Linked DNA regions of Homo sapiens: all the other regions are linked to region 1. The links come from fine-mapping of genetic effects on gene expression. A gene starts in region 1. Each other region holds a variant in brackets. All regions are shown on one strand. Distances are from middle to middle. Region 1 holds the start of ADA2 (adenosine deaminase 2). Region 2 has its middle 22 kb from the start of ADA2. Region 3 holds the start of LOC107985573 (a long non-coding RNA gene). Region 4 has its middle 16 kb from the start of HDHD5-AS1.

Region 1 (5,904 bases):
CCTTTGGAGGCGACTCCAGCCATAAAAAGTCCTGCTTGGAGCTGGTTTTAGCCACAGAGGGCCAATAAATGGCCCCTTCTGAATGAGGTGCCCCTGCACCTCTGCAGAGCCTGCTGCCAGCCTCCAGGATCTAACTGGGCTCTGATTCACCGCTCCCAACCCCACATCCAGGTAAGTGTGCCCAGCTCTTGTCTCTGCTTCCACCTCAAGATCTGAGTCTCCACTCCCCAGAACCCGGCAGGTTCTGCCTGACAAGGACCTGCAGTCCTCTGCCAGCTGCCACACCCTTGCCAAGGTGTGACTTGGAGTCCTGGAGCCACCTTCGGAGATGTGAAAATTAGCTCCTACTTTTAGCTAAAGCGTTTGGAAAGAAAAGCTTGATCTTTAGCTTTGACCTGGTCTTTAAAAAAACCCTTCAAGGGGAACATCACACACCAGGGCCTGTCGGGGGGGTCGGGGCTGGGGGAGGGATAGCATTAGGAGAAATACCTAATGTAAATGATGTGTTGATGGGTGCAGCAAACCAACATGGCACAGGTATACCTATGTATCAAACCTGCACATTGTGCACATGTACCCTAGAACTTAAAGTATAAAAAAAACCCACAAAAAACCCTTCACATGATTTACTTTCAGAATTGGTGGTTTCCCTTTGTGCGGCGCTGGAATCAATCTTGTTTCTCCTTATTACTTGCGGTGCATTCTGCTTCCTCTAACTTTCAAAAAATTAGTGTTAAACTCTTTTTTTTTTTTTTGAGACAAAATCTCACTCTGTCATCCAGACTGGAGTGCAATGGTGCAATCTCAGCTCACTGCAACCTCCACCTCCAGGGTTCAAGCAATTCTCCTGCCTCAGCCTCCCAAGTAGCTGGGATTACAGGTGCGCACCACCACACCTAATTTTTGTATTTTAGTAGGGGCTGGTCTCGAACCCCTTCCATTGTGATCCACCTGCCTCGGCCTCCCAAAGTGCTGGGATTACAGGCATGCACCACTGAGCCCAGCCTAGTCTTGAACTCTTGATGAGGGAATCCCTGACCCCTCTGTGTTTTCACTTTGGGATTTCTTCCTGTTTATTAAATGAATGACCTTGGTACTTTTTGGAGAAAATGACAAAAAGGAGCATCAAGGCTCCAGATGTATGGGAGCTGCAGAACTGAAACTGCCGTGGGCTTTTGGGGGTAGATTTGGGGTCTTGGGGGTAGATTTGAGTGGGACTGGGGAGGAGTGGGGTGCAATCGAGTCTTTAGACCATGCATGTGACATGGAGGTCCCTGGTGTAGCCTCCCATGTCTGCATTTCTAATTGGCTTGGATGAGGCATCCCAATAGTTACTTCTAAGAATAGTCATGGCTAATATTTATCAAGAGCTTTCTATGTGGCAGGTACTTTGCATGTGTTTTTCCTTTAATTCTGACAATGGACCCTCTGTGGTGGGTGCTTTTATTATCCACATTTTCAGATGAGGAAACTGAAGTATAGAGAGTTGAAACAACTTGGTCGAGGCCCCACTGCTACAGTGCTAAGGCCAGCTACAAAGCGAGGTCTGACTCTGACCGTCCTGGGTACAGGAGCCTTGTCTGCTCCACTTGTCCCTTGGAGCGTTGTTCTTGCTGGTCCTCTTCACACCCCAGCTCTTGTCTCCTACCTCCTGCCCCCTCTACTGTCCTGTCCCCGCATCCCTGATTTCCCCCCTAAAACATATATTTTATTATAGCTACTTTTTACTCTCTGTCTAATGGGTTGCCCCACAGTCCACAATCACATTTTGAGGAAGGAGAACTTCCCAGAGTTCATGAACAGATTTTGGAGTGCCTCTTTGCGGTGCTTGTTTCCAAAACCAACATGCTGTGGACCTTTCAAAGACACAGTACACACAAACACACACACACCCTCCCTCCAACACAAATAAACCCACATGCGGCCGGGCATGGTGGCTCACGCCTGTAATTCCAGCACTTTGGGAGGCCGAGGTGGGCGGATCACCTGAGGTCAGGAGTTCGAGAGCAGCCTGACCAACATGGTGAAACCCCATTTCTACTAAAAATACAAAAAATCAGTGGGGCATGGTGGCGCACGCCTGCAATCCCAGCTACTCGGGAGGCTGAGGCAGGAGAACTGCTTGAACCCGGGAGGCGGAGGCTGCAGTGAGCTGAGATTGCGCCATTGCACTCCAGCTTGGGCAACAAGAGTGAAACTCTGTCTACAAAAAAAAAAAAAAAAAAAAAAAAACAAACCCCACATGCACATAAACCGAAACACACACGAACACACAAACACCCACATGAACATGCGCACAAGCCCCCCACATCAAACTCAGATGCACACAGCAAGCATGCATGTAAGCCACACACTTGCCACTCTGGCTGCCTCAGCACTGCAGAGCCCCTCTCCCCGGCCTCTAGTTGGATCCCTGGTGCACACTGGAGGGAAATAAAACCTACCCCAACAGGAAGTGAAACAGTTGGTGAGCTTTTCCGGTGCTCTGCACAGATGCTGGGGCGCTGAGCAAACAGCCCTCAGTTTCTGGAGCTGTTCCGAGGTAACTGGGGTCCTTTGGGAGCTGTGGGATGATGAGGTTCAGGAGGTAGCTGGGAAGTCCGGAGCTTGGGCTTGATCCACCTGCACCTCTCCCTGTCTCCATCTGAGCTGGGTCTGAGACTCTCAGTGGAGGAGTAACAGGCTTTCTCCCAACAGGCTTTTGAAAATGGGCCCAAGGGCATTTACTCAGGACCACAGATGCATGTGGCCTACTCCACTGTCACCAGGCTGGAGTGTGGTGGCACGATCTCGGCTCTCTGCAACTTCTGCCTCTCGAGTTCAAGCCATTCTTGTGCCTCAGCCTCCCTAATAGCTGTGATTACAGGCACCCACCACCACGCCCGGCTAATTTTTGTATTTTTAGTAGAGACGGGGTTTCACCGTGTTGGCCAGGCTGGTCTTGAACGACTGACGTCAGGTGATCTGCCTGCCTCGGCCTTCCAAAGGGCTGGGATCACAGGCAGAGCCACCACACCCAGCCTCCTTTCTTCTTAGTCTGGAAGCAAACTACTTTATGAAGTTTTCATGCATCCTCTTTTAAAAGTAAAAGGAAAATCTTGTGGAGGAGAGAAGATGAAGTAGATATAGCAATAAATTGTGAATAAGGATTGTTTTTACTAGTATTCAACCAGGCAGGTCTTGACCACCATTAGATAAACTTCTGTCTGGCAGCCTGGAAAAGTTCACAGTTGCTGGGACACAAATGCTTTTGGGGTCCTTCTTGGAGAGGATGGAGTTGAAGATTTGGGAGCTTGATGGCCTTTGTTATGTGTCACCAGGGAGACAGGGACAAGGGGCGGGGCTGTTGATGGAGAATGTGGCATGGGGTAGGTGGGATGGTGACATAGAAGTCACCGTGCTCCTGCCCTAGAGATTTTAGTAGCAGGCAAACACCGTGGTCAAAAAAGAGAGTCAAGGACTTAATGAAGTTAAAGGGGTTCTGCTGACGTCCAGCACTCTGATTTTGGGGGTACAGCTTCTGCCATAACTGCATATTGCTGATACTAGTTCCTTCTTAAAATTTTCTTTGCTATCTGATGTACTACAGAATAACTGAGCTGGGAAGAATCTTGGATATTAAAATGATTTAATGAGTAGCAAACTTTCCATTTTTGTCATATCCTTGCACCTCTATTTACTTAATATTTTTCTTTAACTTAAAAATTTTTCAACAAAAACAATAATAGTTACGATATCATGGGTTTGATGTGCTAATACATGTTTTAAAATTACCTATCTGTCAACATAACCCCTATCCATTTGTGAGCCACCTAAGATTGTATTTATGCCACTGATGATATTCATGCTGCACTTGGAAAACCACTGATCTTGTCCAAGTTACCTTTTTTGTAGGTGAGGACACTGAGATCTGGAGACGTTAGTGATTTGCCCAAGGTTGCACAGTTAGAATGATACTAATTTGAGGCTGTTCCTAAGGTCTCCTAATTTACAGTCTTGACATGTTCCAGTATGCTGTATCATACTTTCAAGTGTAGAGAAACAATCGTTTTATTTTCATTTTAAAAATTTTATTTACGTATTTATTTTTGAGACAGAGTCTTGCTCTGTCACCCAGGCTGGAGTGCAGTGGTGCAATCTAGGCTCACTGAAACCTCCGCCTCCCAGGTTCAAGAACTTCTCATGCCTCAGCCTCATGAATAGCTGGGACTACAGGTTCAATACACCACGCCTGGCTAATTTTTGTATTTTGGTTTTGCTATGTTGCCCAGGCTGGTATCGAACTCCTGGGCACCAGTGATCTGCCCACCTCAGCCTCCCAAAGTGCTGGGATTATAGGCATGAGCCACTGCCCCTTCTTAAATGTAATTCAAATAGATAACCCAGGTAAAGGAGCAGCATAGAGCCTTGTGTGAGGAGATGCTGAATACATTTCCTTCCTTCAGTCCCTGCTCGTTGCCACCCTGAACTGGCTGCTCTCTGCAAGTTTTGATAATCCTTTCTAATGCTAATGCTCTGAAATACCAAGATGCTGTACCTTGGTGTGGCCACAGAATGATTGACTGTGCTGTGCAAGGTACTCAATCTAAAGACTGTCAGTTCTGGGGCAATTTCTTGTATTCCTTATTGGCTTATTTCCTTCACCTGTTTTTTTTTTCTTTTTCCTTCTGAAATGTCTGTTATTTGGGTGTTGGATTTCTTCAACCAATAATCATCTCATTTTCTTTTCTCCTATTTTGCTTTACTTTTAAAAATATTTTCTTTAACTTCATTTTTAATATTGCTAGTAAATTTTTAAACATTCGGCTTTGCTGTTTTTAATTTCTGAAAGTTCTTTCTAATTCTCATTTTTTTAATCACCTCCTGTTCCTGTTTTACACACACAATGTTTTATGTCTTTAAGGATGTTAATTACAGTTCTTTCAGGTTTTTCTTTTATTTCCTGTGTTGCTTTGTTTCCTCTCAGTTCCTTATCTCTGTGTGTTTTGTTTTGGTTTCTTTCTCAGTTTGAAGCATGTCTTATGATCTTGTGCTCTGGTTATATTTGTTATTTATTTATTTATTTTAACTTTAATCCATTTTATTTGAGTCTCTCTCTCTATATATATGTGTGTGTGTGTGTGTGTTTTTTTTTTTTTTGAGGTGGAGTCTTGCTCTGTTGCCGGGCTGGAGTGCAGTGGCACGAACTCGGCTCACTGCAACCTCTGCCCTCTGGGTTCAAGCAAGTTTCCTGCCTCAGCCTCCCAAGTAGCTGGGATTACAGGCACACGCCACATGGCTAGTTTTTGTATTTTTAGTAGAGACAGGGTTTTGCCATGTTGGCCAGGCTGGTCTTGAACTCCTGACCTTGTGATCCACCTGCCTCGGCCTCCCTAAGTGCTGGGATTACAGGCATGAGCCACCATGCCCGGTCTTAGTTACTCTGAAATATACATAATATTATTGCTAAGTATAGTCACCCTAGTCTACTATGAAACATTAGAACTTATTTCTTCTATCTAACTGTAGGTTTTTTTTTTTCCTGGGAGTGGGGCAGATAGGGTTTCACTCTGTCACCCAGGCAGGAGTGCAATGGCACCATCATGGCTCACTGCAGCCTTGACCTCCCAGACTCAAGTGATCCTCCCACCTCAGCCTGCTGAGTAGCTGGGAGTACAGGTGTGTACCACTACACATGGATAATTTTTATTATTATATTTATTTATTTATTTTGAGATGAAGTCTTGCTTCTTCCCCAGGCTGGAGTGCAGTGGTGCGATATCGGCTCACTGCAACCTCCGCCTCTCAGGTTCAAGCGATTCTCCTGCCTCAGCCTCCTGTGTAGTTGGGATTACAGGTGCACGCCACCACGCCTGACTAATTTTTGTATTTTTAGTAGAGATGGGGTTTCACCATGTTGGTCAG
Region 2 (5,452 bases), 23 kb before region 1:
CTACAGGCGCCTGCCACCACGCCCAGCTAATTTTTTGCACTTTTAGTAGAGATGGGGTTTCACCGTGTTAGCCAGGATGGTCTCGATCTCCTGACCTCGTGATCCGCCCACCTCAGCCTCCCAAAGTGCTGGGATTACAGGTGTGAGCCACCGCGCCCGGCTCAGACAGGTTTTTAAGATACTGCTAATATAGCACTTGGAATGAAGGCACTCTGGCTGTCACTAGGGCGTGGTCAGTGCCCAGGGACTCCTGCCCATAGAGGAATGAAGCCCTACCCAGAGGCACCCTCTGCACGCCTGTGAAACCCCAGCAGGGGCTGCCACATTCCCTGGGTTATGGGTGCGGCAATGTGAACCGGGAATAAAACCTGGGGCCTTTCAGAGTGGCAGAGGAGGCTGAAAAGAGGTGGAGAGAGCCCAGCTGCACTCACGGGCCAACACAGACCCCTGGTCTAAAAGGAGTCCCCCAGAACGGGTCAGGCCAGAAATCCGTTCTAGTCCTCAGTTCCCCATGTTCTCTGTCCTCTGTGTCTCTCGCCAATTGCATAGGCTCCTCTTGTCTTTCTCTCCTTCCCTCCCCTGCCTGCATCTTCTCAACAGATGCCCTGTGCCGTCAATAAGTAGCCACGGGCCCCCCAAGCAAACAGGGGCATTCTCACCAGTATCTGAGTGCTCCCAAAGGGCTGTGGGGTCCGATCAGGTGGGAATGGGGCACAGATGGGGCTCATTCGCCTGGCCTGTTGGTTGAACTTGCCCCCTGGGGTGTGGCCATAGAGTTGTGGTGGGGAACCCCTTTTTCATGTACCCTGAGTAGGGGAAGCTGTGTGGAGAAAGTGGGGGGTAGGACTCTGCTGAGCAGGGCGAGGCCCACGGTTGTCTCATGACATTAGAAACATGAAATGAAACTCAAGGTCCTGAGTCATCCCTGTGACTGAGGCTTTTGGACTGGCTTTTTTTTTTTTTTTTTTTTGAGACGGAGTTTAGCTCTTGTTGACCATGCTAGAGTGCAATGGCGTGATCTCAGCTCATTGCAACCTCTGCCTCCTGGGTTCAAGAGATTTTCCTTCCTCAGCCTTCCTGAGTAGCTGGGATTACAGGCACGCGTCACCACGCCCGGCTAATTTTGTATTTTTAGTAGAGACAGGGTTTCTCCATGTTGGTCAGGCTGGTCTCGAACTCCCAACCTCATGTGATCCGCCCGCCTCGGCCTCCCAAAATGTTGGGATTACAGGCGTGAGCCACCGTGCCCAGCCTCGGACTGGCTTTTACCATTTTGAACAGAAAGTCTGCAGCGTGAACAATGGCTCAGGCTGATGAATGCCTCAGTCTAAGTGATTTAGCTGGTGCTGACCCGCTCCCTCATTGATCTTCCTCATTCCCAATTCCAGCAGCAATTGAAGTCTGCACCACACAATTTAGAACTCAGTTGTATATCACCTGCTGCTGTTCCTGTTGTTTCCTATGAGTTGGTCTTGCCTTTCCAGCAAGAATTACAAGCTCCTTCAGGACTGGGATCAAGTTTGTTTGATACTCCTTTAACCTCCAACGCCACTCAATAAATACCCCTTGATTAGATCAGATAATATCTGCATTGCAGTGAGCCAACTTGGCACAGAGAGGCACTCAATAAATGCTTGCATGAAGGAGTGATTTTTTCTGTTGACAAAGGACAAGACAGATCTTTCTGAAATTTTGCAGGAGGTACTTACATCTAAACTTGGTCTGCTGATTATGACAAATCTCAGCCCCCTCTTCTGAAATCACTTCCCTCAACTAGTGAAATAGGTTGGTATTAGTATTCCATACTTACAGTGTTGCTGGCTGAGTGGTGTCTCCCCCAAAATTCATGGGTTTGTTTTGTTTTGTTTTGTTTTGTTTTGAGACAGAGTCTTGCTCTGTTGCCCAGGCTGGAGTGCAGTGACACGATCATAGCTCACTGAGCCTCGACCTCCTGGGCTCAAGGGATCCTCCCATCTCAGCCTCCCAATGTGTTGGGGTTATAGTTGTGAGCCACCACTCCTGGCCCAAAACTCGTGTGTTGAAGCCTTAATGCTCAGTACCTCAAAAGGTGACTGTACTTGGAGATAGGACCTTTAAAGAGGTGATTAAATTAAAAGGAGGCCCTTAGGGTGGGCCTAATCTAATCTGACTGGCGTCCTTATAGGAACAGGAAATTCGGAGTGGGAAGAGACAGCAAGGGTCCTTGTTGGCACACTGAGGCCTCAGAAGAAACCAAGCTTGTCAACACTTTGATCTTGGACTTCCAGCCCA[G/C]GGAACTGTGAGGAAATAAGTTTCTGTTTTTTGAGTCACCAAGATTGTGATATTGTGTGATGGCAGCCTCAGCCAACTAACACAGAGAGAAGTTGAGGTCTCCAGAAGGGAAGTATCTTCTGTCATGGAGTAAGCCTCTAAGCTGTCCAGAATTCCCCCAAGGTCATGTGTCCCTAAGTGCGGGCACTCCCACAGGGGTGCCACAGTCTAGCCGTGTCCTGGATTTACTCCTTCTTGTGCTCCCTTCATACCAAGCCAAGGGTCTCTGTCTCCGTGGGGCATTCTCCCCTGGATCCTGGCCACTCCACACCCCTCCCCACCCTCTCACATTCCCACCTCCACATCCCTGCAAGCACCCATGTGAGATGTGCCCTGCCACACTGCAAGGAAGTGCAAGGCTCACATGGTGTTTTGTTGGGGTGACTCCAGAGAGCCTTCTTCCAGGGCTCCATTCTCTTTGCATGGGAGGACAGCATCAGGCAGTTCCATCCACGGGCTGCCTAGTCTGAGCAGTTGCTAGCGTCAGGGTAGGGCAGACCTCTGAGGCCAGGCCAGTGGGCGGGCAGAAGCCACGCTCCCAGGCACCAGCCAGGAAGCTGGATCTAGGGGTGGGCATGTGGAGGTGGGAATTCCAACAACGTCTGGGAGAAAGACAGGCGAGGCACAACAGTCAGAGGACCAGAAAGAAACCAATGAGTGGAGGCCTGGTCGGGCCATCTGGGCAATTGCCTGTTTGTTTAAGAGATCCAACTCTGAGTGTATGGAATTGAGAGACCTGGGCCCAAGGGGCAGAGGGTAGGGGACTCCCATGCAGTTTATGCCCTGGAGTTCTTTTTTTTTTTTCTTTTGAGACAGAGTCTCACTCTGTTGCCCGGGCTGGAGTGTGGTGGCATGATCTCAGTTCACTGCAACCTCCACCTCCCAGGTTCAAGCGATACTCCTGCCTCAGCCTCTGAAGTAGCTGGGATTACAGGCGCCCGCCACCATGTCCAGCTAATTTTTTTGTATTTTTAGTAGAGACAGAGTTTCACCATGTAGGCCAGGCTGGTCTCAAATTCCTGACCTCATGATTTGCCCGCCTCAGCCTCCCAAAGTGCTGGGATTACAGGCGTGAGCCACTGCGCCTGGCCAACACCCTGGAGTTCTCTCTCGTGTATCTGTCAGATTTTGTTTGCCCCCTTTCTCCTACCTGCACCTAGAAAACTGTTTTTCACCTGGATTCCCGTTTTCCAGTGTCAGCTATGTGTCACACTTTGCCAGCTTTTGCCCAACCACGTAGGATGTGATCTGAGCACACAAACACCTTCCAGGTTTTAAAAAACTGTTCAGTTAATCATTGCAGGCACGTCTTGGTTACTGAGGCTGGCCTTTGTCTGGAAGTGTCTTCTAGGTAGACTTTGACTAGCAGAGAGTAGCACCTTTGAGGCTGGTGTGGATTGCCTCATTGCATGGTGCCCACCTTCCGTGCATGGCCCCTCAGTGTGATACCCAGGGGGCTTTGTCTGCGGGTGGGGTGTGATAGCAAACCTTCTGTGAAAGGGAGGCTGCCACTCCCCTTCGCTACCCGCCACTTTGATCTAACCTAGCTGGGTGCACTGTTGTCCTTGGTTTGCTTCTACAACACTGCAGTTTCTGTGTCACCTTAAGCCCTTGAAACCTAGTGACCGACCTTCTGAAATGCCTCTGCAGCTCCATCACTCATCCTAGAAAGATGGCATTATCCATCCTCAAGGAAGATATCCATCCTAAAGAAAGATTCAGCTAGGATATACAATGCTTCTCAAACTTGACCATGCACGAGGATCACTGGAGGGGTGGTTAAAGCAGATTCCTGAGTCCCCGCCCTGGAGTTTCTGAGTCGGGAGGTCTGGGAAGGTGAGGCTGCTGAGTCTGGCCAGGGGCCATACTCTGAGACCCACAGAGCTAGGATTACAAACTGTGCCATCTCTCTGAGTGTGTGCGACTGAACACTTGCTTTTAACCATTCTTTCTCAAACACTCTCTTGCGAATGTTGAGGAGAGCCTGGATCAGGGTCCTGGATAAGAGCTGACGAAATAGCACCAACAGTGGGTCTCTGGGCCTAGTTAGCCCTGAAATGTAGTTGGGGCTGAGCCTGATATTTCACAGGCTGCTTCTTGACTCATGTTTGAAAATTTTTTTTTAATCCAGTGTGATTTATTCTTTCTTTGAGACAAGGGCTTGCTCTGTTGCCCAGGCTGGAGTGCAGTGGCACAATCATAGCTCACTGTAGCGTTGACCTCCTGGGCTCAAGTGATCCTCCCGCCTCCCAAAGTGCTGGGATTAGAGGTGTTAGCCACCACACCCAGCCAAACTCTAACAAAATACTGTAGAGAATAAATCACAATAAAGCAGGTGCAGTGGCTCATGCCGGCAATCCCAGCACTTTGGGAGGCCAAGGCAGGAGGATCGCTTGAGCCCAGGAGTTCAAGATCAGCCTAGGCAACATAGCGAGACCTCATTTCTACAAAAAATTTTTTCAAAAATTAGCCAGGCATGGTGGCACGTGCCTGTGGTCCCAGCTGCTCAGGAGGGAGACTGAGGTGAGGGGATCCCTTCAGCCTGAGAGGTCCAGGCTCCAGTGAGCTATGAATGTTTGCACCATTGCACTCCAGCCTGGTGGGGCAGAGCAAGGCCCTGTCTCTAAATTAAAAAATAAGAAGTCCAGGGAGGCTCAGCTGAGTTCTCTGTTTAAGATCTTGCAGGCTGAGATCAAGGTGCTGGCAGGGCTGCATTCCTGACCGGAGGCTCTGGAGGAGTCTTCTCCTACACTCATGCAGGTTGTGGGCTAACGTCAGCTCCTGGAGGTTGTGGGACTGGGACCCCTCTTTCCTTGCTGGCTGTCAGCTGGGGAAAAGTCTCTGCTCCTGGAGGGTGCCTGCTCTCCCTGACATGCTTTCTGTCAGCCGTGAGTCCCTCCCACCCTTCAAATCTCTGGCTTTTTATGTTGAATCTCTCAGGCTCCAGCCATATACAGCTCTGTGCTTTTAAGGGATCATGGGATTAGATTGGGTTCACCTGGATAATTCCGGCTAATCTCCTCATTTAAAGGTCCATGACCTTAATTAGATCTACAAAGTTCTCTGTGCTGTATATAATACAACATATTTTCAGGATTAGGGCACGGAGATCTTTAGGAAGATATTCTGCCTGTCACAAATA
Region 3 (5,216 bases), 22 kb after region 1:
AGGCTTTTGCCACGGAGAGTCTAGGTCTTAATGCCCCCCATTAGCCAGAGTTGGGGGGCCACCAACACATTAACAACTAAAAACAGTCTTCACTAGAATCCTTTTGCTGAGCCCCCTCGCCTCCCCCTGCCTGGTCGCAGGCTAATTCCGGCCTGGGCTGCTGTGGACGGACTATCCTGGCCGCTGAGCCTCCCATTGTGTTCCTAATGCTCAGTAACAAAGGCTGCTCGCCGGTAGCAACGGTCGCTAGGCGGGTCTTATCTCCTGGGCTCCGGCCCCTTCCCCCACGGCAGAGTCTGAGGCCCAGACTGGGTCCCCTGAGTCTTTAGCATGGGGCTCTTCCAAGACCCCGGAGGGTTATCCACAGGGGATGGCCCTGCTGGCACTTATGGAGGGGAGAGCTTATGGGAGACACGTCGGTGGCAGAGAACCTGTGACAGTCGTTCCCAGACGTTTTCTAAGACGTTGTCGTTCATACAGTAAGCATTTCTAGTGCTCCCTGTACCCGCGCTCCCCAGCCCCCATGCTTTTGCCTGGATTCTTAGCAGACCTTTCATTCAAAATTCCATTTGGCTCCTTGCTGAATGAAGCGAACCCTGTGTCATGTTGCTGGTGTCGCTTTACGAGAACACGCACCCTCTTAACTGCTCCCTTTTTGACAGGACTCATCCGACTATGCTGTCATTGTGCTATTTACTTGTCTGTCGATTGGAACAGTGGCAGATCTTCAGCCCAGCTGTATATCGCACCCTAGCACCACCTGGGAGATTACAAACACCAAGCTTCTACCCCACAGATTCTGATTTGGTTGCTCTGGGGTGGGACACAGGCATTTTTCCTCTCCTTGAGTGATGCCAATGTGCCGCCAGGGCTGAGATGTCACTCTAGTGACTGTCACCTTTCTACAGGAGGGGGCAGGGGCCTCCTGATGACAGGAGACAACTCAGGGCAAGCAAAATTCTGAAATGTGGTCGGCCTCCAGCCCCACTAATTATGCAGGGGTACTGAGTTTCTCAATTTTTTTGTTTTTTTTTTTTTTGAGACGGAGTTTCGTTCTTGTTGCCCAGACTGGAGTGCAATGGTGCAATCTTGGCTCACCGCAACCTCCGCCTCCCGGGTTCAAGCGATTCTCCTGCCTCAGCCTCCCGAGTAGCTGGGAATACAGGCATGTGCCACCACACCCGGCTAATTTTCTATTTTTAGTAGAGACGGGGTTTCTCCATGTTGGTCAGGCTGGTCTCGAATTCGTGACCTCAGGTGATCCGCCCGCCTTGGCCTCCCAAAGTGCTAGGATTATAGGCGTGAGCCACCGTGCTCAGCCTTCTCAAACTTTTAAAGCCTCAAAATCCTTATCTGTAAAATGAGACCTACCTCATAGTGTAGTTTTGAGGGTTAAATGAGATTATGGCATAAAGCCCCCTGCATATGCCTGGCATGTAGTAGAAGCTCAACACTTCTTAAGTGAATGATACTCTGGTAGTGAAAGCTGAGTGAAACTGCCAGTACTGGCCAGGTGCAGTGGCTCATGCCTGTAGTCCCAGCACTTTGGGAGATGGTGGCAGGTGAATCCCTTGAGCTCAGGAGTTCGAGACCAGCCTAGGCAACATGGCAAAACCCTTGTCTCTACAAAACAGGACAAAACAAAATAATTAGCCAGGTATGGTGGTATGCACCTGTGGTCCCAGTTACTCAAGAGGCTGAGGTGGGAGGATCACCTGAGCCTGGAAATTCAAGGCTGTTCAAGATCATGCCACTGCACTGCAGCCTGGGCCGCAGAGTGAGACCCTGTCTCAGACAAAAAAAAAAAAGAAAAAAAAGAAAGAAAGAAAAAAAGAAATTGCGAGTCCTTGTTTCTGTTCTGATACAAACCAGTTGTATGACCTTTACAGCACTCTGCTCCCAAATTTCCCCATGAACCAATCTGTCGTCCAGGCTGGAGTGCAGTGGTGCGATCTTGGCTCACTGCAACCTCTGCCTCCTGGGTTCAAGTGATTCTCCTGCCTCAGCCTCCCGAGTAGTTGGGATTACAGGTGCCCATCACCATGCCCGGCTAATTTTTGTATTTTTAGTAGAGACGGGGTTTCGCCATGTTGGCCAGGCTGCTCTTGAACTCCTGACCTCAGGTGATTCGCCTGCCTCGGCCTCCTAAAGTGCTGGGATTACAGGCATAAGCCACCATGCCAGGCCTCAGAGATCTTCTTTTAAGCAGAGTTGTCATTTGTTAATATTTTTTAAAGGTTATTTCTTTGGTCTCCCTTCTATTCTGCTGGCATGACTCCACCTACCACTCCGCCAACAACTGTCTATTTGCCCTTGCTGCCTGGGCCTTAGTACTTTTAAAACTCCTGTGGACAGCACTCTCCTTGAATTAATATTTATTTATGGAGCTCCTGCTCTGGTGCCATAGGAGAGGAGGTGGGGAGAGTAAAACTGCAAGGACTCTACCCTGGAGGAGCCTCCAATCTAGCTGGGGGGTGTGGGCAGGAGACTCAGTAATGACAGGGTGGTCAAGGTCAGGACAGAACCCTATTCTTCCCTGCTGTGAACCAGCTGGATGAGTCCAAGACAACTGCAGGTAACAATTGTGGGTTGGGTTAACACAGTGGTTCTCCAACTTTCTGGTCCCAGAACCTCTTTATATTCTTAAAAATTTTTGTTAATTTCAAACGCCTTTTATTTATGTGGATTATATCTATTGATATATCCTGTATTAGATGTTAAAATTAAGAAATTTTCCTTTTTTTTTTTTTTTTTGGGATGGAGTTTCACTTTTGTTGCCTAGGCTGGAGTAC[A/G]ATGGCACACAATCTTGGCTCACTGCAACCTCCGCTTCCTGGGTTCAAGTGATTCTCCTGCATCAGCCTCCCGAGTAGCTGGGATTACAGCAAATTTTTGTATTTTTAGTAGAGAAGGGGTTTCACCATGTTGGCCAGGCTGGTCAACTGACATCAGGTGATCCACTCGCCTTGGCCCCCCAAAGTGCTGGGATTACAGGTGTGAGCTATTGCACCCAGCCAAAATTAAGAAATTTTCTTGCCGGGCGCAGTGGCTCATGCCTGTAATCCCAGCGCTTTGGGAGGCTGAGGCGAGCAGATCATGAGGTCAGGAGTTCAAGACCAGCCTGACCAGCATGGCGAAACCCCGTCTCTACCAGAAATACAAAAAAATAGCCAGGCGTGGTGGCATGTGCCTGTAATCCCAGCTACTCGGGAGTCGTGCTTGAACCCAGGAGGTGGAGGTTAAAGTGAGCCGAGATCGCACCACTGCACTCCAGCCTGGGTGACAGAGCGAGACTCCGTCTCAAAAAAAAAAAAAAAAAGGAAAGAAATTATTCTAAATACAAACACATAATCCATGATTGGCATTATCGGTCAGAATGATATGACACATGATGCAGCTTCAGGAAAATTCTACTGTACATCCATGAGAGAATAAGAGTGAAACAGACAGTGAACCAAGATTGCACCACCACACTCCAGCCTGGACGACACGGCAAGACTGTTGCAAAATAAAAGTTTAAAAAAATTTTTTTGTTTTGTTTTGTTTTTTTTTGAGACGGAGTCTTGCTCTGTCGCCCAGGCTGGAGTGCAGTGGCGCGATCTCAGCTCACTGCAACCTCCAACTCCCGGGTTCAAGCGATTCTCCTGCCTCAGCCTCCCCAGTAGCTGGGATTACAGGCGCCCACCACCACGCCCGGCTAATTGTTGTATTTTTAGTAGAGATGAGGTTTCACCATGTTGGCCAGGATAGTCTCCAACTCCTGACCTCAGGTGATTTGCCCGAGGTGATCTGCCTCCGCCTCCCAAAGTGCTGGGATTACAGGCATGAGCCATCACACCCGGCCTAAGAATTTGCTATGTGCACAGATAGATGCAGGCCTTCCTTGAAAAGACGTGAAGCACCAAAGAAGTTAGAGTGAGGGCTTATATTCCATTTTAACAACTGGTAATAAATTGTGAAGAAGTGACAAGATGAAGGAAAAGGGGTTTGGGCTTCTAGGGACAGTAAATTGTGGGCAGGCAAACATATGGGGGAAACTAATGGAAGATAAGGGCAATTTTATAAGGCTGGTTTGTGCAGACCCATCTTGGTAACAACTTTCTGTTTCCGGTGGTAAGGGTGATTCTCCTGGTACGGGAGAGGGGAGGGCGACACCTTCACAAAGGGAAATTTAGGCAGATGAGGTGGGCAAAGAGCTCTTTCTTCATTTGCTGCTTCTTAATTGCCTTCAGCTAAAAATATTTCTTCTGCTAAAGTGGCCTATTGGGTGACATATTCTGACCCTCTTCAGTAAATAATAATAATAATAGACAATACTAGATCCTGAATGAACAGTACCTAAGGTTCTTCCTTCTGGCACGCTCTGGCAGCCTTAAAGTTCAGTAGCCCCTGAGCATGGCTGTGCCAGGTCAGGCAGTCAGGGAAACTGCCCGAGCAGAGTGAGTGGCCTGGCCAGGTGCAGGTTGTGGGGGGCTGTGTGACGTGCCAGGCTTCATGGGGGCAGCAGAGGAAACAGAAGAGCAAAGACCAGTGGAGAGCCTCACTGCCTGCTCCCCCACTGCGCCTGCCCAGGCAGCGGGGCAGCACCCTGGAGATGAGAGAGCAGCAGTACTGTTCTGCAGGCCTGGGGGAATGCGGGGATCTGAGGGACTGCCCAGAGACAAAGGACACACAATGGCCGCAGCCTGGAGGGGTGTGGGAGGCCCCTAGGCTGGGGAGACAGGAGTGAGGCAAGGGGCTGGTGGGAAATGAGCAGAGGAGGTGGACTCCCAAGGGCCCATTTCCTGAGATGCCACAGAGGCAAGAGCCGACTCCCGGGAGGAGGAAGGGCATTTCTCCCTTAGTGAGGGGACAGCTCCTGGCTCCCACTGCAGCTCTCAACCTCGGCTCCTTGAACCCCCGCCCCCAGGCAGCTCTTGACTCTGTGTGGAGCCACCATTCCCTTGGTCAGGACTAGCAACCTTCTCTGACCCATCCAGTCACAACAAACTGCTTCTTCTTTTGAGAGGTCATGTGCTTCTCTTTAGCACTTATTCTATTGTTTCTTTTTTTTTTTTTTTTCATTCCTTTTTACAGACAGGAACTCACTCATTGCCCAGGCTGGTCTTGACCTCCTGGGCTCAAGTGATCCTCCTGCCTCGGCCTCCCAAAGTGCTGGGATTACAGGCGTGAGCTCTTTTTAGTGGGTCAGGTCTATCTCTCTGACCCTATTGTCACTC
Region 4 (5,904 bases), 44 kb after region 1:
CAGGCACTAGCCACCACATCCAGTCTTTAAGCTTTTAAATTCAACTTACAAAGCTTGTTAGTTCTTCCTTCTTGACTTTATTCCTCATTGCATAGGCCTAGTCCTATTGAACTAAATGTCCATGGAGCATTTATCTGATCATTTTGAAATAATTTCAAAAAGTTGCAAGAATAGTACAAAAAACTCTTACCAGGCCAGGCACAGGGGGTCACGCCTGTCATCCCAGCACTTTGAGAGGCCGAGGCGAGTGGATTGCTTGAGCCCAGGAGTTTGAGACCAGCTTGGGCAACATGGCCAGACCTCATCTCTACTAAAAATACAAAAATTAGCTGGGCATGGTGGGGTGTGCCTGTGGTCCTAGCTATTCAGAAGGCTGAGGTGGGAGGATTGCTTGAGCCCAGGAAGAGGAGGTTGTAGTGAACTGAGATCACACCACTCCACTCCAGCCTGGCCAATAAAGCGAGACCCTGTCTCAAAAAAACAAACAAAAATAACAACAACAACAACACAAACCTCTAACATTCTCTTTGCCCAGGTTCCCCCAGTTATTAACATTTTACAACATTTGATTCCATATATCATTCTTTCTCTGTTTCTAATTGCTCTCTCTATATATCCTATTTTTTTTAACCACTCGAGACTAAGTTGCAGATATTATGCCTTTTATTCCTAGATTCTCCAGTGCACATTTCCTAAAGACAGTGACATTCTCCTATGGAGCCACAGTACATCCAATCAAATCAGAAAAGTATTAACATTGAAAAGACGCTAGTATCTGGCTCTGGCCCTGCTGAGCTTTGTTTTGTTTTGTTCTTGGTCCAGAACCCAATCCAGGATCACAAGTTACATTTAGCTGTCAACTCTCTAGTCTCTTTCAGTCTGAAATAGCTTCTTAGTCTTCCTTTGTGTTTTGGAACCTCATTTTTGAAGAGTACAGGCCAGTTACTTCATAGACTATCCCTCATTTCAGGTTCATCTAATGTTTCCCTAGGAAGAGGCTCAGGGGATACCTTTTTGAGAGGAGCACCTTGGCAGCGAGGCTTTGTCCTTCTCAGTGTACACACCAGGGGCACATGAATGGGGCCAAGTGTTATACTTCCAGCTTGTTGTTAAACCTTTAGGAGTCTGGAATTGGTCTTGATGGGAATTTTTTTTTTTTTTTTTTTGAGACAGGGGTCTCACTCCATTGCCTAGGCTAGAGTGCAGTGGCAGGATCGCTGTTCATTGTAGCCACTACCTCCTGGGCTCAAGCAATCCTCCTGCCCAGCATCCAAAGTAGTTGGGACTACAGGCGTGCACCGCCACCTCGGCTAAGTTTTCTTTCTTTTTACTTTTTGTAGAGATGGGATCATGCTATACTGTCTAGCCTGTCTCAAACTCCTGGCCTCAATCCATCCTCCCGCCTCGGCTTCCCAAAGTGCTGGGATTACAGGCATGAGCCACGACACCAGGCTTGTGGGAGTTTTTGTGCCACAAAAATCAGCAAATGTTACAAATCCATGTCCCCACCAGCCAGCTGTTACACATTTGCCAGCATACTGATGCATACAATGTTAATTTGTCTCAATATGATACTGACTTTGATCGCTTAAGTTGATTTCTGCCAGAATTTGCCATTGCGAAGTTACCATTTTTCCCTTAGTAATTAACACATATTTGGAGAGGAGACACTTTATGTAAAAGTCTTCACTCCTCCTTAAAACTTTACCCATTAGTGCTTGCATCCACTGAGGACTTTTGTCTAAATCTGCTATTACTATCATGGTTGCTGTTCCGTTTATTGCTGTGTAGCAAATTATCCCAAAACGTAGTGGTTTGAAACAAAAATAAAAATTTATGGGGCCAGGCGTGGTGGCTCACATCTTTAATCCCAGCACTTTGGGAGGCCGAGGCGGGCGGATCACCTGAGGTCAGAAGTTTGAGACCAGCCTGACCAACATGGGGAAACCCCGTCTCTACTAAAAATACAAGATTAGCCAGGCATGGTGGCGCACGCCTGTAATCCTAGCTACTTGGGAGGCTGAGGCAGGAGAATAGCTTGAACCCGGGAGGCGGAGGTTGCAGTGAGCCGAGATGGTGCCATTGCACTCCAGCCTGGACAACAAGAGTGAAACTCCATTTCAAAACCAAACCCAAAACAAACAAACAAATTTATGATCTCTCCCAGTGTCTGTGGGTCAGGGGTTTGGGCAGAGCCCAGCTGGACAGTTCTGCTCTGGGTCTCTCATGAGGTCCTTGTCACAGTGGAGGCAGAGCTGGAGCTGACGGGCCGCCAGGGGTCACCTCTCTGCACAGCCCCAGGGCTCAGCTGGTGCTCTCCTATGGCTAGTTTGGGCTTCTTCCCATTGGCCTCAACTTCTGGGGTAAGTATTCCACGGAATAAATGGAAGATTCTGGAAGTCACATGGCATTATTTCTGCCATACTTCGTTGGTCCCAACAGTAACAAAAAACACCTCCTGGTTTTAAGCGGAGGAGACAGAGATCCCAACTTTTGATAGAAGATTGTCAAAGTCACATTATAAAAAAGAATATATAGGATAAGAGAAGTCGTTGGAAAATATTTTGGAAAATACAACCATCAAATGGTGATTTTTTTTTCCTTCCTTCCTTCTTTTTTTTTTTTTTTTTTTCTTTTTCTGGGTCTCGCTCTGTCACCCAGGCTAGAGTGCAGTGGTATGATCACGACTCACTGCAGCTTTGACCTGTTGGGCTCAAGAAATCCTCCAGCCTCAGCGTCTCAAGTAGCTGGGACTACAGGTATGCATCACCGCAACCAGCTAATTAAAACTTTTTTTTTGATACAAACAAAGTCTCACTATGTTGCCCAATATGGCTCAAACACCTGGGCTCAAGCAATCCTCTCACCTCAGCCTCCCAAAGCATTGGGATTATAGGCGTGATCCACTGTGCCTGGCCAAAATGGTGATTTTCTAATTCTACCATTTCTTCCATATTAGTTGCCATTTTGCTGCAAGGAAGAACAATTCCTTCCCTCCCAGCTTCCTTTTTTCCTTTTTTTTTTTTTTGAGACAGAGTTTTGCTCTTGTTGCCCAAGCTAGAGTGCAATGGTGCAGTCTCGGCTCACTGCAACCTCCACCTCCCAGGTTCAAGTGATTCTCCTGCGTCAGCCTCCCAAGTAGCTGAGACTTCAGGCGCCTACCACCACGCCTAGCTAATTTTTGTATTTTTGGTAGAGATAGGGTTTCACCATGTTGGCCAGGCTGGTCTCGAACTCCTGACCTCAGGCGATCCGCACGCCTCGGCCTCCCAAAGTGCTGGGATTATAGGCGTGAGCCACTGTGCCCGGCCCCTTTTTTCCTTCTAGCTGTACGACTCAGGGATTCAGGTTGTATTCAATGAGCTATAATCCATTACTAGCACTATTTATTGTGATGCTTACACTATTCCAGATCTGGCCATGGGAGCCCTGTTAAGTTGGCTGCTGATAAAGTTCTATAATTGAGAACTTTCTTACTTTTTCCTTTTTTTTTTTTTTT[TTG/G]TGACAGGGTCTTGCTCCATCCCCCAGGCTGGAGTACAGTGGCACCATCACAGCTTATTGCAGCCTTGACCCCACAGGCTCAAGAGATCCTCCTACCTCACCCTCCCTAGTAGTTGGGACTACAAGCACGTACCACCACGTCTGGCTAATTTTTGTATTTTTTGTAGAGATGGGGTTTTGCCATGTTGCCCAGGCTGGTCTCAAACTCCTGAGCTCAAGCAATCTGCCCACCTCAGCCTCCCAAAGTGCTGGGATTATAGGTGTGAACCACTGCATCTGGCCATTCTTCCTTACGCAATAAAATGTTCTACCTTCATTTTGTACTTTCCCTGTGTCATGCCTGAGCTCAGCCATTTCTCCAGGGAGCTCTGTTCCTTTCAGTAGAGAATAATATTTAGTAGCCCTGATCTAGGCACTAGATGTGCTCATTGTTACTGGAGTGTGTGTGTGTGTGTGTGTGTGTGTGTGTAGACACAGAAATACAATTTATGCATATTAAAATGGGAATATTATGGCCAGGCATGGTAGCTCATCCCTGCAATCCTAGCACTTTGAGAGGCTGAGGCGGGTGGATCACTTGAGGTCAAGAGTTCGAAACCAGCCTGGCCAACATGGTGAAACCCCGTCCCTACTAAAAATAAAAAAAATTAGCCAGACATGGTGGTGGGCACCTGTAATCCCAGCTACTCAAGAGGCTGAGGCAGGAGAATCGCTTAAACACAGGAGGCGGAGGTTGCAGTGAGCCAAGATCATGCCACTGCACTCCAGCCTGGGCGAGACTCTGTCTCAAAAACAAACAAACAAGCATCCAAAACAAAACAAATAAAAAAAATGGGCAGGAAGAGGGAAAGAGTTGAAAAAAGAAGAGAAAACGATGGAATTGTTAGACTGGAAGTGGCCACTGGAATGGAAAGAGTTGAAAAAAGAAGAGAAAACGATGGAATTGTTAGACTGGAAGTGGCCACTGGAATGGAAAGAGTTGAAAAAAGAAGAGAAAACGGTGGAATTGTTAGACTGGAAGTGGCCACTGGAATGGAGGGCTCGGCTACCTTAGCAGTGCTCCCGAAGCTGCCATTTCAGAGGAAATGTGTGTTAGTCAGATTTTATTCTTTTTTCCTTAAGAAGACCCTTCAAATATGTATAAACCTCAGGACTGCCCCAAAATCTGGATCTGCGCCTGCTCTAGATCAGCTCTTCATTTGGAAGGAGGAAAGCGAGGTGGAGGTGTGTTCGTTTGAAAAGACTAGCTGAAAAGAGAAAACTTACAGGAGCCTCAGCTTGTGAGGGACCTTGAAAGACTATGCAACCAGCCTCACCTTCAGGAAGAGCAGCCCGAGACTTCCTCAGGAAGATGTCCCTGTTTCTTTTTATTTTCTTTTTTTTTGAGACTGAGTCTCACTCTGTCGCCCAGGCTGGAGTGTAGTAGCATGATCTCGGCTCACTGCAACCTCCACCATCCCAGTTCAAGTGATTCTCCTGCCTCAGCCTCCCTAGTAGCTGGGATTACAGGCACGCGCCATCACACCTGGCTAATTTTTGTATTTTTAGTAAAGTCGGGGCTTCACCATGTTGGCCAGGCTGATCTCGACCTCCTGACCTCAAGTGATCTGGCTGCCTCGGCCTCCCAAAGTGCTGGGATTACAGCCGTGAGCCACCGCACCCGGCGCCTGTTCCATTCTTAAAGCTCACCAGAACGCGATTCTGTAAACTGCTTCAGCCACCCATTCCGGAATCCCAAATGACGCCTTCCCATGGTCAGGATTTCAATGAGTGGTGCCATCCTTGGCTCTCACAGGAACTGATCCCTTGGGGAGGACTGTATGAAAATGCATCTGTAAGCTCAGATGAAGTCAGCATGCTAGGGTTGGAAATATTATTTTCACATACATAGTCTAGGTTACTTAATTTATTGTTTTGAGACAGGGTCTCACTGCCCAGCCTGGAGGGCAGTGCTGTGATCATAGCTCACTATAATCTTGAACTCCTGGGCTCAAGGGACCCTCCCGCCTCAGCCTGCCTCTCCAGTAGTTGGGACGACAGACGCGCACCACCACGCCCGGCTGTTTAATAGAGATGGGGGTCTCCTTTTGTTGCCCAGGATAGTATTGAACTCATGGCCTCACGTGATTCTCCTGCCTGTATCTCCCAAGGCACTGGGATTACAGGCCAGAGCCACCTTGCCAGGCCAGTATGTTACTTTAAATAGCAGTCATCCTAAAAATAGCTTACCCTCCTCTGTCCTTCCCTGCCTGGAAAGGGTGTAAAAATAACATTTGGGGGCTGTAAATGCTGTCTAGATCTCTGGAGCTAGGTAGGTGCAGAGGTGTGATTTGGGTTTGGCTGTGCTCCGAAAAAACCGGGGCCGAGCTGCTGGTTTTGAATTTGTCCAGGCTTTTTAGCCAA

What was found.
Region 2: its variant is fine-mapped to the expression of ADA2 in whole blood (TOPMed, PIP above 0.99). The same link has a PIP of 0.9 or more in blood mononuclear cells.
Region 3: its variant is fine-mapped to the expression of ADA2 in caudate (GTEx, PIP 0.95).
Region 4: its variant is fine-mapped to the expression of ADA2 in whole blood (INTERVAL, PIP above 0.99).

What each region holds. Positions count from the first base shown.
Region 1 is chr22:17,215,994-17,221,897 of GRCh38, reverse strand. ADA2 (adenosine deaminase 2) reads left to right here and starts at 2,463. Exons shown (of 10, transcript NM_001282225.2): 1 at 2,463-2,542. RefSeq lists enhancers at 2,676-2,805, 2,816-2,885, 2,726-3,086.
Region 2 is chr22:17,239,104-17,244,555 of GRCh38, reverse strand. No RefSeq gene overlaps it. Among named protein-coding and RNA genes, the nearest start is that of ADA2, 22 kb to the right of the region's middle. RefSeq lists enhancers at 728-987, 1,008-1,067. The variant G/C (reference allele first, on the strand shown) is at 2,272.
Region 3 is chr22:17,193,862-17,199,077 of GRCh38, reverse strand. The region is part of intron 4 of ADA2 (adenosine deaminase 2); the gene reads left to right. It overlaps LOC107985573 (a long non-coding RNA gene), which reads left to right and starts at 289. Exons shown (of 2, transcript XR_001755419.2): 1 at 289-479; 2 at 663-1,017. RefSeq lists enhancers at 1-187, 188-692, 3,243-3,758. The variant A/G (reference allele first, on the strand shown) is at 2,793.
Region 4 is chr22:17,172,433-17,178,336 of GRCh38, reverse strand. No RefSeq gene overlaps it. Among named protein-coding and RNA genes, the nearest start is that of HDHD5-AS1, 16 kb to the right of the region's middle. The variant TTG/G (reference allele first, on the strand shown) is at 3,500.